Linked DNA regions of Homo sapiens: region 1 is linked to region 2. The links come from fine-mapping of genetic effects on gene expression. Tissue or cell type: whole blood. Region 2 holds a variant in brackets; the other region holds the start of a gene. All regions are shown on one strand. Distances are from middle to middle.

The links. PIP is the estimated chance that this variant, and not a neighbour inherited with it, causes the effect.
Region 1: DNAH10OS starts here. The variant in region 2 is fine-mapped to the expression of DNAH10OS in whole blood (TOPMed, PIP 0.96).

What each region holds. Positions count from the first base shown.
Region 1 is chr12:123,931,254-123,939,253 of GRCh38, reverse strand. DNAH10OS (dynein axonemal heavy chain 10 opposite strand) reads left to right here and starts at 4,270. Exons shown (of 2, transcript NR_187476.1): 1 at 4,270-5,189. DNAH10 (dynein axonemal heavy chain 10) reads right to left here. Exons shown (of 79, transcript NM_001372106.1): 74 at 7,782-7,913; 75 at 7,407-7,618; 76 at 7,146-7,313; 77 at 5,743-5,923; 78 at 4,488-4,633; 79 at 3,540-3,919. The coding sequence ends at 3,773. CCDC92 (coiled-coil domain containing 92) reads left to right here. Exons shown (of 5, transcript NM_025140.3): 5 at 1,424-3,628. The coding sequence ends at 2,196. RefSeq lists enhancers at 204-704, 705-1,205.
Region 2 is chr12:124,012,612-124,020,871 of GRCh38, reverse strand. The region is part of intron 2 of ZNF664-RFLNA (ZNF664-RFLNA readthrough); the gene reads right to left. ZNF664 (zinc finger protein 664) reads right to left here. Exons shown (of 5, transcript NM_152437.3): 5 at 5,445-8,260. The coding sequence ends at 7,942. Among named protein-coding and RNA genes, the nearest start is that of ZNF664-RFLNA, 44 kb to the right of the region's middle. The variant G/A (reference allele first, on the strand shown) is at 3,124.

The sequences.
Region 1 (8,000 bases), 81 kb after region 2:
GGGAAAGACGTCCAGTGGCGTCCAGTGCCTAGGCAGGCCCTGGGTGGTGGAGTTGGTACAGGGAAACTGGGCGTGCAGGTCTGGAGTTAGGGCAAGGACAGAGGGTACAATAGAGACAGAACAAGAGGTGGTGGCTTGGGGAGAGTGATGGAAGCTTTGATTTATGTGGGAGCAGATAACATTCAGGACAGATTGAGGAACTGGAAGGCATCTGGCAGTTTGGGTTTTATTAGGCAGTGAGGAACCATTTTGAACAGAGGACAAGAATATTTAGGGGGTGACCAAGCTTCCTAAATACAGGATGGGCTGAAACGAAGACCAGAGAGGAGGTGGGACCAAGGCCGGCTGGAGGAGCAGGGAGGGGGCAGCACTGAGCAGCCAGCAGAAAGGCACAGTCAGGGAGGGGAGGCCAGGGATGGCGACTGCATCCAGTTTCCCTGGGAGAGTCAAGATGTGGGAAGCAGAGCAGCTATCTGGACTTGAGGGTGTGTCTGACGGACACTCACTTGGAGAAGTGGTGCTCAGGAGACACTGAATCGGGAGCTGATGCTCAAGTTGAATTCCAGACCAGCAAGGAAGAGTCTAGAAAGAACTTCCCAGGGGCCAGGCAAGGAGGATGGCCAGCCAGCCAGCGTTAGGAGGAGTAGGATGGTGACCCAGGGTTTAGAGCCAAGGGTGCTATGTGAGGTGACCAGGGACTGCAGGTCACCAGAAGAGCAGGAGAAGGAGGTGGCTGGTGTTTGCTGAAGGACTGGGTGAGGGCAGGCACCCAGGGACAGCAAAAGGAGGCAGAGGCCCGAAGTGTTAGGGCAGGGGCAGGGAGGGACCAAGGGTAAGAGCCACAGAGGCGAGACAGCTCACTCTCTGAGCAGGAAGTGGGAAAGAGTCTGTGTGTGTGTGTGTGTGAGAGAGACGGGGGTAGGGGGGTGAGAGAGGCGGCCAGCGGCAGAGCAAAGGTGACAGCCCCACACCTCTTCTCCTCTAAACATCAGAATTTTAATTCAATAGACATGGATAATTCTTTTTACATTTGAGTTTCAAAACAGTACTTTGAATGTAGCAGGCATTCCATAAATGCCATCTGAGCAGACAGAGGGATTTGCGGCCAGTTGAATCCTAAGTGTTTGCTGAGGTCTGATACTCTGCAATTGCCTGTTTTAAGTTCAGCATCTTTAAGGTTCAGAGACATTCTTTTATGCAGTAGGCCAGAGAACTAAGAGCCGGAAAGGGCCTCTGAGATGCCCCGATCTCCCCACCTCGGGGAGGGGAGGGGTCTTTCCAGAGCCCCCACAGCCCTGCCTTCTGCATGGCCCCCACAGCCTAGACAGGGCCCCCACCAGACAGGTCCGCCTGCCCCATAGGCCTCACCACTCGGCCTCAGTCTAATGAGTTCTTCACCTGCTTCCTCGGCTTATTCTTGTAGGAGACGGGACTTCTAAAAGCAGTGAATTAAAGAAAAGATGTGAAGAGCTGGAAGCCCAACTGAAAGTGAAAGAGAACGAAAATGCTGAGTTGTTGAAAGAACTGGAGCAGAAAAACGCGATGATCACAGTGCTGGAGAACACCATCAAGGAGCGAGAGAAGAAGTACCTGGAGGAGCTGAAGGCCAAGAGTCACAAGCTGACCCTGCTGTCTAGCGAGCTGGAGCAGCGGGCCAGCACCATCGCCTACCTGACCTCCCAGCTGCACGCCGCCAAGAAGAAGCTCATGAGCTCCAGCGGGACCTCAGATGCCAGCCCGTCAGGGAGCCCCGTGCTGGCCAGCTACAAGCCAGCGCCCCCCAAAGACAAGCTACCCGAAACGCCTCGCCGCCGCATGAAAAAGAGCCTCTCAGCCCCCTTGCACCCGGAATTTGAAGAGGTCTACAGATTCGGGGCAGAGAGCAGGAAACTCCTTTTGCGGGAACCAGTGGATGCTATGCCCGACCCCACCCCATTTCTGCTGGCTAGGGAGTCCGCCGAGGTCCACCTCATCAAAGAGAGGCCCCTCGTCATCCCCCCCATCGCCTCCGACCGAAGCGGCGAGCAGCACAGCCCGGCCCGCGAAAAGCCGCACAAGGCCCACGTCGGGGTGGCACATCGGATCCACCACGCCACCCCGCCGCAGGCCCAGCCCGAGGTGAAGACCCTGGCGGTCGACCAGGTGAACGGAGGCAAGGTGGTGAGGAAGCACTCAGGGACGGACAGAACTGTGTGAAGCCCGCCGTGCCCCACCCCGCGCTGTCCATGCACTGTGAGCACCACTGGGAAATCTCAGCCACACCTTTTCTGTTTAATCCCATGCATGCCAAACACTTTTCACACCTACCGACCCATTCTCCTTCTGCTTCTCTTGCCCTCTTCTTCACACCAAAATATGATCGTGTCCCTGCCGCAGAATATGTATTTCCTAATTGCTGTGGCCAAACGCCTGTGTGCCGAATCGCTTGCTTCTGATCCCGCTCCGTGTAACCTAAGTGCGCTGCAGGCAAAGCCCAGGCCACGGCTGCGTCACTACTGATGTTCACGATGCCACACAGTCACACACCTAATTCATTCTCAAGTCGGAGCAACACATACCAACCTTGACCTTATCCTCAAGCTCCAGGGCAGCCTGGCCGAGCAGCCCCTGCTCCCTCCTGGAGACCCTTGTCACCTCCCGAGCTCCTCCTGGAGACCCCTGTCACCTCCTGACCAACCTTTCCCAGGGCGGCACCGATCACCGAGCAGCCGTGCGTGTATCTCAAGGAACTAAATAAGATGACGCTACTCCTCATAGCACCACAACCTGAATGTGTGTTCATATTTTTTTGTTAGTTTTATCCAAAATGTTTAAGATCCCAACAAACTTTATTTTCTAAACCTGCCTTCCTTCTGTTTTGTGTCTTTTATTAAACAAACACCTGAAGGAGGGCTAGGAGACTGCAGGAGGGAGAGCAATCACAGGTCCCAGAAGCGACTCCGGCCTCCTCCCGGCCCAGAGCTAGTCCTTAGAATGTGCTGCGCTCCTGAGCTTCTGTGGGAAGCTGCTTTTGCCTCTGATGGCCCCTGCCCACTGTGCTGCCCGTGCTAGCCCCTCTCCTCCCTCATGGAGTGAAGCCACCCCTCACCTCCAGGTGGCCAGCCAGGGCTCCAGGCCAGCCTCATGGTGCACAGAGGGAAGGGGTGCCCAGTGACCACTGGTCCTGGAGGTTCTGTGTCCTTACCTGACCCCACACAGACCCAGGCAGGCTGGGGGTAGAAGCTCATGCAGGAACTAAACACTAAGCTCAACAACTTCACAGTCGCCGTAGCAGGTCAGAGCCAAAGAAGCTAGGGCCAGAGAGTTCTGGAAGGGGGAGAAGTGGCTCCAGGTGACTGGTCACTTCTGCTCTGTGCCCGACATCATCAGCCCTTCTTGCCAAAAAGGAGCATCTGCTGAAACAGACCTGGATCATCGAAAACACACCTTTGGAAATTACATTAGGATTCTCACTTGTGCCAATGCTATGTATGCCAGGCACTTTTGCCTAATCAAGTGTTTTCTCTGAGAAGGAAAAGAAAACTCCACACATCTTAAAATACTCTCCAATATTTACTTTTTGATTATATAAATTCCTTTTAAAAAGTAGTATTAAAAACAAAACCATTCAGGTTAATTTGTATGGAAAGAGATTTAAGTGGCTGATTTCAAATGAAAAATCAGTGTCAGTCCCCCTCCTGCCTCTTGAGAGGCCCCAAGAAATGACAGCAGACCCGATCACTCTGACAACCCCAGGCTCCGAATTCATTAAGCAGTTTTCTTCACCCAAAGGTTAATCAGAATTCAGGGTGAGGCATACTCCTTGCAGCACCCAGTGAGAAATGTGCCTCGTGGTAAAGAGATCAGCTTCAAAAACCAAGCCGACTCCCATGGCGTTCCTTCTCATGGAGGTGGTGTAGACGGGGGTCCGGAAAGTATTCTGCAAGGGAAAGGCAGGTGAGATGCCCCCACGGAGAGAGGGTGCAGAGGGATAAAGGCAGAGGTGCAGTGTAAGTCTTGACAGGCAGGGGCCCCTGTGCAAGACTGCACCTGAGAACACGCACAAGGCTGGGGCTGCTCAGGGCCACCCTCCGCCAGCTTCACGGGGACCTGGCTTCACACTGACACCCTGGTTAAAAGTGGGTCCTGGCCCAGGCAGAGCAGAAGACATCTGCTGTCCACACCAGCGGGAACCACTTTATGACTCAGGCAATGTCTGCAGCATTTTGCAAGAAGGGAGGGAGTCTCCCCTTGGTTAGTCTAGACCACAGGATCACAGCTTGAGCCTGACACCTCTGGAAGGACCGGCATCCACACACACATACAGCCGCGCCTTTTCCAGGAAGCAGCTATCCGTAGCTTTTATCACGGCTCCAAGACTCTCCCCAGCCCATAAAGCTTAGGCACCCCTGTTTTAAAAAGTAGGACTGTTGGAAACCACCTCAGCCATAACTACAGTCAGAAGAGGAAGGGCCCTGGTGTCAGAGAGGAGGGGCTGGGACCTTCACCTGCAGCTTGAGGCGATGGGCTTCAATGGGGATGATCTTCAGGATCGGCAGGTCCACAACCAGCACCTTGGGTTTGCTCTTGATAAGACATCCTTTTTCTATATCCCAGTCAGCACCTTCCAGGTACAGTCCTGAGACAAAGCATCCTAGGGACACAAGGCAGAGACTGGATACAACTGGAGCATGCACAGCCTGCCACGGAGTGGCTCTATCAGGCGCACACACAGCGACACACAGGCCACTGGCTGGCCTCCTCCCCAGCGCATTGGGGACAGCCCAGGCCCTTCTCCAGCATTTCTGTCCTGCCCACCTTCCCTCTGTGGAGGAGCAGCCCAGACAGGAGACCCTGTGGCCCTGCCCCATGGCCCAGAGAAATGGGTGTGGGGCGGTGGCCTCTCCCCCAGGAATCCTCATTCCTGGGGCATCAAGGCCCACGGACTTAGACCACCCTGGGCCCCCAGGCTAGAAAGATGCATGGTCCCAGAGTCAGAATGGGCACCATGGCAACCCCAGCTACCCTGTGAGCCGAAGTGGCTGGGGAGCAGGAAGTCGAAGCCTCACAGAGAAAGTGGTCTCCGGGGAGGAGGACCCAGCAGATGTGCAAAGAGAGGAACACACTCCTGTGGCCCCAGAGAGAGTGGTGGCCCGGACACCTGCCACCTCCCCTGCCACTGAGACCTGGAGAGTCCCTGCATCTTTACCGTAAGTCCCCAGTCCTTAAGCCATCTCAAAAGAGCTTTTGTTCCTTGCAGTTAAAAGAACTCTAAGACAACATGGACCCGGGGAAACAGCAGTTTCCAGCTCTCATTTGCACAGTCAGTAACCAATGTCTAAGGGACCTGAAGTTCTGGCATAATCAAAGAGTTCCAACCAAGTTAGTCCATGCTGCTCTGTGGCTCCCATGCCCCTGGCCCCGTCAGGGGTTACAAGAAAGCCACCTGATGGTTTTTGCAAGAGCTAATTCTGACCTAGGAGCCCACTTGCCATGAGCTAGCAGAGTGAACATGGTTCAGGTCTCCCCTGCCATAGACCCCAGGTCTCAACGGAGAAAGTGGAAGAGAAACTTCCGTATCCACCCTCAGAGGTGTTAAGACATGGGCAGTGCAGAGACACAGGAAATATTTGCAGCAGGCTGGCTTTCAAACATGGCCTGGCCCATTTAGGCCCACGCTATGCCTGTCCCTTTGAGTTGGAGGTGGTTCAGGGAGAGAAATCCTAAGTGAGAGGCTGTGGATCCCTAACGAGCTGACGGTACCTTGTCCCGCCCGCTCATTCACTTCATCTGCATCCTGGAACTTGGTCACTTGTGTGAACAAGGTGGAGCGGTCCAGTGGCCAGCCGTTCTTCCGGCAGGTGGCCTGCACCAGCGCCGTGAGGTAGGACTCAGGGATGTGCAGCCCCGAGAGCCACATCACGCTGGGCTCGCTCTCGGTCACCTGGAGAGAAGAGAGGACAAGTGCTGGGAGCCTGGGGCTGCCATCCAATGCCAGGTCAAAGCTGGCCTGGAAGTTTAGTTTATGATAAAAGACATATTTCACCTAAGTGGCAAAAGATGGCGTTGGCACAACTGGCCGCCTGTCTGAGAAAAACAATCTGGACTGCCACATTCCAGGTAGATCAAAGATTTAGATATAAAAATAAATAAAACCACAAAAGTACTGGGCCACATCTCCAATGAATGCTTTCATATCGTGGAGTAGGAAATACAAAGCCCAGGATAAAAAAGAAAAGCCTTGTAGGTTTGACTACGGAAAAATGTAAAGCTTTTCTGTGGAAAAAATACCGTAAGCAAAGTCAAGACTTATGACAAGCTTGGAGAAATACCTGCAACACTGGCAGACCAAGGGCTAATTTCTTTGATTTGCAAAGAGCTCTTAAACATCAATGAGAAAGATGGAGACCTCACTAAAAATGAAATCCAGATACAAAAGGACAATTCACAGAAAAACAAACACAAAATGTCTGTAAAGCATGCAAAATACGCTCAGACTCACCATAATTAAAGACATGCAAAACAATGAGATATTATTTTCACCTATCAGGGAGACAGTGATCCAAAATGTTAAGAACGCAGCATTGCAGCGGAGTGAGGAAAGAAGCACTCTCATAGACTGTGGTTTCAGCCTTTCTAAGAACCATCCAACAAGAGCTATCAAAATTTAAAATGCACAAGCTCTTTGATCCAACTCTTCCACTGTCAGAATTTACCCATGGAATATACCCCTATGCATATTCATATACATGTGCACCAGAATGTTATTTGTATTAGCAAAAAAAAAAAAAAAATGGTAACCACCGAAATGTAGGCAGTTACCATATTTTTAGGATACAGAAGGAGGAGAAAGGATATGAAACATTTGTACAATGGCATACTCTAAAAAAGAACGAGCTAGCTGTGTACTAATATGGAACAAGTGCCAAGATATACACTTAGATAAAATAATCGGGTATGTAAGAGTATGCTTCAAAGTCTTCAAAAGAAAAGGAAAAACAAAAGATACAGATAGGCTTGTAAGAATCTCAGACCATTTCCAGAGCACCCAATAAACTTTAACAGAGGTTACTGCTGGGCAATGGAAAGAGGGGATTGGGAGGTGGTTTGAGGAGTCTAGGCTGACACCTGAATCGGCAGAGAGGAGGCGGTGACGTGCCACTTACCCACAACATGTACTGGCTGAACCGCCGCAGGAAGTAGACCATCCAGTTTCCAAGGGACTTTAAGGTGTCAGGAGCAAGCCTTCTCCAGATATTAGGGATATGCCCGATAAAAAGAGACCTGGCCACATCATCTAACTCATTGCTCATTCCAACTTCTCCAGCCAAGGCCTATTTAGAATCAAGAGCAATCGGGCAGGACTCTATCAGAACCCCAGGTGCCACGTATCTAGGCAGTAATCTGCACATGAGAGACAGGCTCACCCTTTGAAGTTCAGCCAGAGACTTCGTCATCCGGACCACAAGCTTGTTGAAGCGTTCCAGTTCCTGCAGGAGCACCACCGAAGTGGGGGAGAGTCCTGTTCCGAGGCGCTTCCTCACCTGGTCCAAGTCAAAGACTTTGGGCATCTTGTTTTCTATTTCTTTGGCCACTTGGCCAATATAATCATCGCGGCTGATACCACTGCTGGATTCCCCTAAAACCAGGACACTTTTCAGAGAAAGCAAGGCATCCACGTGCAGAACCGGAGCCTCCTGAGCCTTCCAGTTCTGGGAAAGGCATCAGCAACGTGGGAGGGCTACAAGAAGCAATCGTAAAACCCCAATCAAACTAATGAAGTCCTCCTGAGTAGAGTTTACCTGTCTGAGGCTGCAGCTCCAGCAGGTGAGCCCACATGTCTCGAGCCGCCTGCGTGTAATAGCCAATCTCAGCGTTGGGGTGGAGACCAAACACTTCTGGCGTGTTGGCAAGCGGGAGGGCCTCGATGGCTTCTGCAATCACAGAGAACAACGGAGGTGGCACTGTCCAGCCACCTGTGCTTTCTCAGGGCCCACAGCCTCAAAGTCTCCAAGACATGC
Region 2 (8,260 bases):
GAGAAAGAATATTTTAGGCTCTGGGGGCCATTCAATCTCTGTTGCAACTCTGCAATTCTGCTGTTGCAGCATCAAAGCAGCCACAGACAAGCCAAGAATGGATCAACATGGTTTTGTTCCCATAAAACTGTATTTATGGACACAATGTGAATTTCATTAAGTTTTCGTATTCAGAAAATATCAATGTGTTAAAAACCATTTAGAAACATACACATTTTTAGCTTGGAGGCTATACAAAAACAGGAGATGAGCTAGATTTGGCCCAGGGCCATAGTTTGCTGACCCGGAACTAGATCACTGAAAATAAAGCCTATTGGGATTAATTCATGGGATTCTAGCAACTAAAAAAAAAAGTTTCAGAAAAAAGATAATAAGCTAAATTAAGGAAGGGAAGAGGATATGATTAGTGATAATAAAAGAAAGTAATAAATATGACAGGAAAATACCCCAGCAGAAGTGATCACCAAAGCCAATGTCTGGTTCTTCGGGGGAGTGGAAGTAGAGAGGGTGGCAAGTCCAATAAAGAAAAAAATGGAAAATATAAACATACGATGGGAGATGTAAGATTTTATCAAAATGCCAATGAGATTTAAGAATTTAGAGTTATACACATCTCTAAAATATATTTGAAGGTCCCCAAAAAAGGGAGGTTTTTTCCTAGAAAACTATAAATTATCAAAAATAAGGGGGAAAGATCTAAATTGACCTATTAGTTTTGAAAAGAGTAAAAACACTGTCAAAGCTTCTAAGCTCCACCCTCAAGGATCTGAGCCATTTTGGATGAGTTCTATCACTTTCAAGGATCAGATGGTTGATTTAAACAATATGAGATGTTACCTTAATTTATGCTCCAGGCAAGTGAAGTGGGACACAGATTTTATTACTTTTTCTTGTATGAATACTGCCCATACAGTCCAGGGGCACAGTTATTAACCTGTGCTATTTAATTTATTCCAGAATAAGGAGGATAGAAAGCTTTTAAATCCCTGATTAAATCAATTCATAACTAAAGACTCTCTCTTAAGGTTACACACATGCAAATTTTCAAAAATCCACCAAAGGTGGAAGGATGTAATACTTTATGACCATAAAAGATGTTATCCTTATATTTCAAAATGACTCAGTACATTAACAAATGAAAGGAACAGGAGCATATGATGATCTTGGTGAAGGCCCAAAAGTCATTTGGTAAAATTTAAAAATCCTGCAGTATTTTTTCCAGCTTGTTTGACTGCTTAGTTTCATATTCCTTATCTCATAAATGAATTGAAGGCTATGAAAGTTTTTCATTTCGGCCCCATCCACAAGACGTGCCCCACAGTGCCATCTCTGCCACTCATCTCTACTACACTTGATTTCCTCTTTATTTGTAACTTGGGATGAAATGGACAGGACTTTTGGCTCTTTCTCAGTGACTTCAATTTTTTATTACATTATAGTCAGAGAATATGACCTGTGAGATTTCTACATTTTGGAATCTGGTGAGATTTCCTTTCTGGCACAAAGCATGGCTAATTTCTATGACCATTCCAAGAGGATCTGCTGCACAAAGTTCACACACAGTGGACACATCAAGTTTGGTAACAGTGTTAGTTAAATAGCCAGATCCTTCTTTGTCTAGTTGATTTTCAAATTCTGATGGGTGAGGGTTAACATATCTTGCTGTGACTGGGAATTGCTTAATTTCTTACCATGTTCTATCTTTCAAAGCTATGTTGTGAGCTAATGAAAGTATATAACTATCTTCTTGACAAATTATTCCTTTCATAAACGGACTGACAATACTACCACCAGTTGCTTTCTTTTAGCATTTCCTGATCTTTTTCAACCCCTTCACTGTCAGCCTTTTGGGTCACCCCTTTATTTTAGGTGGTCTCCCATAACCATCATATACACGTTTGTGACGTCATTTACAAATCAACTTGAAAATGTCCCTAAGTAGCTGAATTTAACCAGTTCACATTTACTATGATTAACAATATGCTTCAACTTACTCCTGCCATCTTATCCTTTCCTGTTTTTTTAATTTCTTCTCCTAATGTTTACTGGATCAAGTGAGGCAAGCAAAACACAGAGGATTCAGTTCTTTCCAGACACTGCCTGTTTCAACTATAACAATGTGGCAACAACAGCTCCAGGAAGTAGGGCTTGCTGCTCTACCAGACTCTCCCGTCATCCTCCACAGACTGTAGAAACAGGACTTACCCTTGAGACTAAGTCCCTGTGGGTCTTGACCTTATCTCAGAAAGGGGAGCGGGGGGCACACAAGGATGGAAGAGTATCAGGGGTAAAAAAAAAAAAAAAAAAAAAAGACATTTTGGGGACAGACAGGATGAAGACTAAAGAGGACTGACTTAAACAGTCAGAGATCCCAGGCAAGTGAGGTAGGACATAAAAATTAGACATGAGAGAACATGGCATTGAGCAATATGAATAGGTCTATTTGAGAACCTAAATACAACCCACACCAGTACTGGGGCCCTCACCCATTTTACAGCAAGAACTGCCTCCTCTGTAACCAAGACAGATTCAGTTGAGATCTAGTGTTTTCCATTCAGGTAGCCAATTCCGTCCACGTCCAGCCAGTCCCCTCTGAATACTCAATTGTCCTCACCTATATTCTTTTAATACACTGTTCGCAGAACTGTTGTCTTAAGCGTATGACATCGAAACTGCCACACAGCCTACCTCCTGGGCCCAGCATAACAACACATGCACATGTATCCTTCCATTTTATGCCAACGTCCTTTTCCCTCTTTCCTCACAACACAGCGTTGTGTTTTTTCCTCCGTTTATTATACCCATCATTTCCTATCCATTCCACTAACTGGAACTCTTAGGCACCCCTTTTGCCTCCCAAGATCCCCAAACAACGAGTAACCATATGCCAGCCAGTGTTCTTTATCTCTTAGAGTCACAAACATAAGGAAAGCCCCCTTTCCTAGAAAAATGCATAGACCTACAGGTACACAAAATTCTGCACATAACTTAAAAAGGTTCTAGACCTCCCCAAAAGCCGTCTGCAGGTCTTAGGTTTTAAAATTCTGTAAATACAACACCCCCACCATAATTCATGATGCAGAGAAGACCTGGATCAGGGCCAGCAAAGAATTAAGAGGGGGA[G/A]GGAAAGTCGGTCTCTCAGCGAAGCCATATTTAGACACAGTATTTAGGAAGGTACAGAGTCTATAAAATGCATACATCCGCCTAAAAATACACAAAATCTGTATGTGCTACTTTACTCTAGAAATGCAGTTTATTTACATATGCCTAAATCTGAGCAATAAAATTGCTTTGGTATAAAGTGTCATTTTCCACCGATATTTATGACAAGTTCTTACTGGCATAAACACACACACAGCCTTGGGATCTCTGGATTTGTTCATGTGTTTTGTAATATGTTAAAATGAGAATGATAAAAAAAATTCTTAAGTTTCAACTTACTTATGATTATAAAGTTATTCTACTTCATGTACATTGAGAGTGGAAATAAAGATATCCCAGGCCTCCCTGCCCCTTAGGGGTTTGGGTAAACTTGACTCAAAACTCCATTAATTCCATGGCCTGTAGCAGCTTTTAGCTACCCTGAAGATTTCTGCATATTCTGCATATTCCTTGGAGCTTGTTCTCAGGGGCACCCTCTTCTGGCTCCTATATTTATGTGTGGTACTTACGTGTTGCCCCATTTCACCCTGGATACAGCACTCAGCCCTTCCACCAGTTTCCATAAGAAATCCACCATGCCAAACACCCCTAACTTTAGGGAAAGACTTTGTGGTCACGAAGTTTTCCTACACAAGAGCTCAGAACTTCAGACCATCCTACTCCACTGGTTCCCTGGTCCTCTCTCCCACTCCAAGTCTACCCTTTGTTTTCTTACCTCCAACTACCCCAGGAGATTCAAGTTCTCTCTCTTACCATGTGGAGCAATTCAGCCCTCTCCAGGTCCTACCCCAATTTTAGATGTCCAAACCCACCACAGAGCTCAGCAAAACAAAAAGGAATCCAAATAACATGACCTTTCTTCCTTAATAGGCAACTGGGAATAGGAATTCGTTATAGCACTAAATGCTAGGCACTTTACGTTTATTTACTTCTCCCAACATTTCCATGAATTAGATATTTTCAAAACCATTTTAAAGATGAGAAACTTGAGGTTTAGAAAAATTAAGAAAATGAATATGGTTAGAGGAAGTGCTCTATCATCTTCATTTTTCCTCTCTTCCTCTCTAATCCATAGATCTTAACTCAGCTTTGCTATTTATATATGGCTCTTGCCCTGTAGTAGTATCAACCTTTCTCATCTTTTCCTAGATTTTACCACTGAGTATATTTTCCATCTGCTTCTGATATTTGCTTTCCATTCACCTAGTTTTTCAAATTTCTGAGAATATCAGTACATTACAAAGACTGAGAAATAATTCAAAAATTTTAAGAACAGAGCCAAGAGCTAGAAGGTCCCTTGGAAGGAATCATGTCCATGCTCACACAACACAAAGTAATCCCTCTTCAATTTCTGAGATGGCCTGACGAGCTGTGCCCACATTCTCACGCAGTAGACTATCTCAATGTTGGACTCTGATGCAAAGAGTTCTTCCTATCTGCAAGAGGCAATCTGCCGTTTATTCATGCTTCCAAGTTAGAAACCATGCAGTCATTCTGGACTTATCTTGGCTCACACTCTAAATCCTAGCAGATTCACCAAGAGTGAATCCCATCACAGATGACCTACCCTTGCCCCCACCCCCCACCCCCATCAGAAGGGCTAGTTTGGGTTGCTCCCATCCCAATGGTGGAATTGCAATGCAGACTTGTCTCTCAAAGCTGGTAGACGCCACAGCCAGTCAGACTGTTGACTGCGGCACAGAACGTGGGCCCCCTCTGCTTCAGCTGACAGCACTTCACGCCTTCCCAGGCATGGGCTGCAGTCAGCAGGGGCCAGGGCAGGGCTTGGAGGAACTGCCAAGGGGCACCAGGAAGATCACAGAAAGCACCAAAATGGATCACCCAAGGAAAAGGAATTAGCTGCCAACATTTTAAGATTAAACTGTGTGTGAAAATCGAGGTTGGTGTTTTCTTAGAAGAGCTGTGGGCCTGTATTCGCCGTGAACACAGAGCCACAGCCGAGCTGAGGCAGTCCTCTCAGTGGACTGTGCTCTCTCCAGATGGATTATTCCTGACTTGAGTCATTTATTACCTGTGTGGCTGTGACCTCAGACCAAGGTGTCCTCACACCTTAGTGTGCCCGAGAAAGGCCCATTCGAGGCTTGTTGTCCAGATGTGAGTATCAACAGCACCCCCTCCCTTCACTCTCAAGTGCTCAGTTTGGACAATAAATTACATGGTCACCCTGGGCTTAATGTGCAAGCCAATTCTCCACCACACACCCATACCCATACTCCCACACACGACCACTGAATTCACACAACTACATGTCAAGCACAGAACCCTGTTATAAAGCGATTTTATTAAATTGATTTGGACATACTGTAGGTCAAATAATATTTTCTGAAGATAACAATTATGGACTTTAAAGCTCGACATAAAATTAGTAGCTTCAAAAGGGTTAGTCATATTCCCCAGCAACAGCATGATAAAATAATTCAACTATGTAGAAATATAGAACTCTAGGACTAGCTGGAAACTCGGAAATCATTTAGCCTAATGTTCTCATTTTGAGAGAAAACTAGACTCAAAGATTAAGCGATTTGCCCAAGCTCACATACCTAATAGTAATAAAGCTAGAAATCAAACCAATTTTTCCTAAAACTAAAATTCTATCAATGATATTTCAACTGGCTATCAACTAAAAGTCTAGGCTTTTCTCTAATGCTCCACGCTATTGTGACATGAAAGAGTGATAAGACACTACAGTAAATCGTACTTGTGGAATTCAGGCCTGGAAGGGGCTTTGGCAAATAACTAAGCCAGCCCTCTCTTTGTAAAAAGGAGGAAAAGTATCTGAAGTGACTTACCAAAGGCTTGTTAGCAGAGATGTCTGGATTAAAATCCAGATATTGACAAATTCACCCCCAAATCCCATCTCTAGTTTCATGGCCCACCCACTAAATCATGTGCTCCTTTTAAATCTCCTTTATGCGCTGAGGTTTTAGTTATACAAAAACCCCTTCCAGTCAAACAGAAAAAATTAATTCAAATATGGAAAGAAAAATCAAACTTTCAGTATTTTCGTGACTATCTTGAGTAGTTCATTTTCCAACCTCTTAGACAGCTGACAGACACCACTAACCTGATCACCTATTTCAGAGCTTCAAAGATCCTTAATTTCCCCAAAGACTTCCTGAGCAAAAGGACTACATGTGGGAAATCAATGAAAACAGGAATGAGAAGAGAAAGTTAAAAATTGGTTGCTTTTGTTCCTGTCATTGGGGACTTTTGGTCTTCTAAACATTCCTTGAGTTCCTCCACATGAGTTTTTAATATCAATCTAGCAAAAATTAAAACAAACAAAAAAAGGCCTCTGAAAGTCAGGATACTGACCACCTCGGCATCTCTCCCCTTCCCCACTGCTTGCGAATGCCAGTGCTGGCCTGTTCCTTAAACGCACCAGCTCATCCCCCAGAGCAGCCTGTGTGCTCTGCCAGCGACTGCTACTTCTCCTCCGGCCTCAGCTCAACATCCCACCGCGGAAAGGCCTCCCTGACCACTAGCTAATGTCACCCCACCCCCACCCCACCCCACCACTAAAATCATCACCCTAGTTTATTTTCTTCATAGCACTTAATCACTATCTCAAACTACATTATTTATTTGTTTACTTATCATCTGTCTCCTCCACCAGAAGTAAACTCCACAAGAGTAGGGACCTTGTCTGTCTCATCAGTGGTATTCCCAGCACCTAGCACAGTGCCTGGCATATAGGAGGTGTTCAATACATATTTGTTGAATGAAGAAAAGAATGATGGATTAATAAAGACGTTCATGCCTAACAAAGAACTGATACACAGTAATCAATGAAGGGGTATCAAGAACTCCTATGCATTATTGCCCAAGATTACAGAAATAGAGATTGAAACATTAGTGACTCCTCCTACCATCCACTTCTCATAAGGTCTCCCTAGCTAGGAAGGAGCTCCATCTGTTACCAAAGGAGCCCAGAGGGCAATTCTGGATGAAGAAAAGCTCTCACTTTGCTTGCTTCTTCCTCCCTGCTATTTACATTCAGCTATTTCCAAAAAAATTCAAGTGAAAAATATGTGATGCAGCCACTACAAAATAAGTCTAACAGAGACAGTGATGAGCAGAATCCACACAAATAAAAAAGGTTCAAGGACATATATGTCTGCCAATGACTTTTCTGATAGGCTAAGTGAATGGGAATTATGAGTCACCTAAAATCTAAAATGAAAGTTAATGCCATCTAGGAAGGGATGGATATTTATGGGGATTTTGAGGACATATATTCAGAAATAATAGGATATATGGAAAGATATGTAGGGGCTAAATCAAGTGTTAACCTCAGAAATACCAGAACGTGATCTTAGTGGGAGCTGTCTGTTTTCCAATGCATTGCCAGTATGCTCGAATAAAGAGGAAGGAAGGGCATGAGCTCCTCAAGGGGGAGTATCTGGGATAGCTTTTAAGCAAAGTATAGATAGAAGGTGACTCAGGAGGCCGGGCAATGATTGTGGCTTTTTGTGTAGTCTTTCAACTATGGAGGCATCGTGCTGGAATCCCAGGAAGCGACGTCTGTGACTGGGACCTGAGAGCCATCCTGCGTGGATGCTCAGAGGTCCACATTCAAAGTCAACCTGTGGAACACACTTGGCATGAACCAACAAATCAATCTCACATATGCCTCCTCAGAAACAATGTTCTGCTAGGGATTGCGTAAATATTTCTTGGGTCAATGTAGGTATATACAGGGTTTCCTTCCTAGTGGCACTTATGGGTTTTAAGATTTTAAACTCTTAGCAAAACGTTTTATATAACTGATATTTTGAGATGGTTTCTCTCCTTTGTGTGGACTCTCTGGTGGATGCAGAGGCTCGTACTCTGACTGAAGGCCTTTCCGCACTCATCACATTTGAAAGGTTTCTCTCCTGTGTGGACTCTCTGGTGGATGCACAGGCTCGAACTCTGACTGAAGGCCTTCCCACATCCACAACATCTATAGGGTTTCTCTCCAGTGTGGACTCTCTGGTGGATGCAGAGGCTCGAACTCTGACTGAACGCCTTCCCACACTCATAACATTTATAGGGTTTCTCTCCTGTGTGGACTCTTTGATGCATGCAGAGGCTG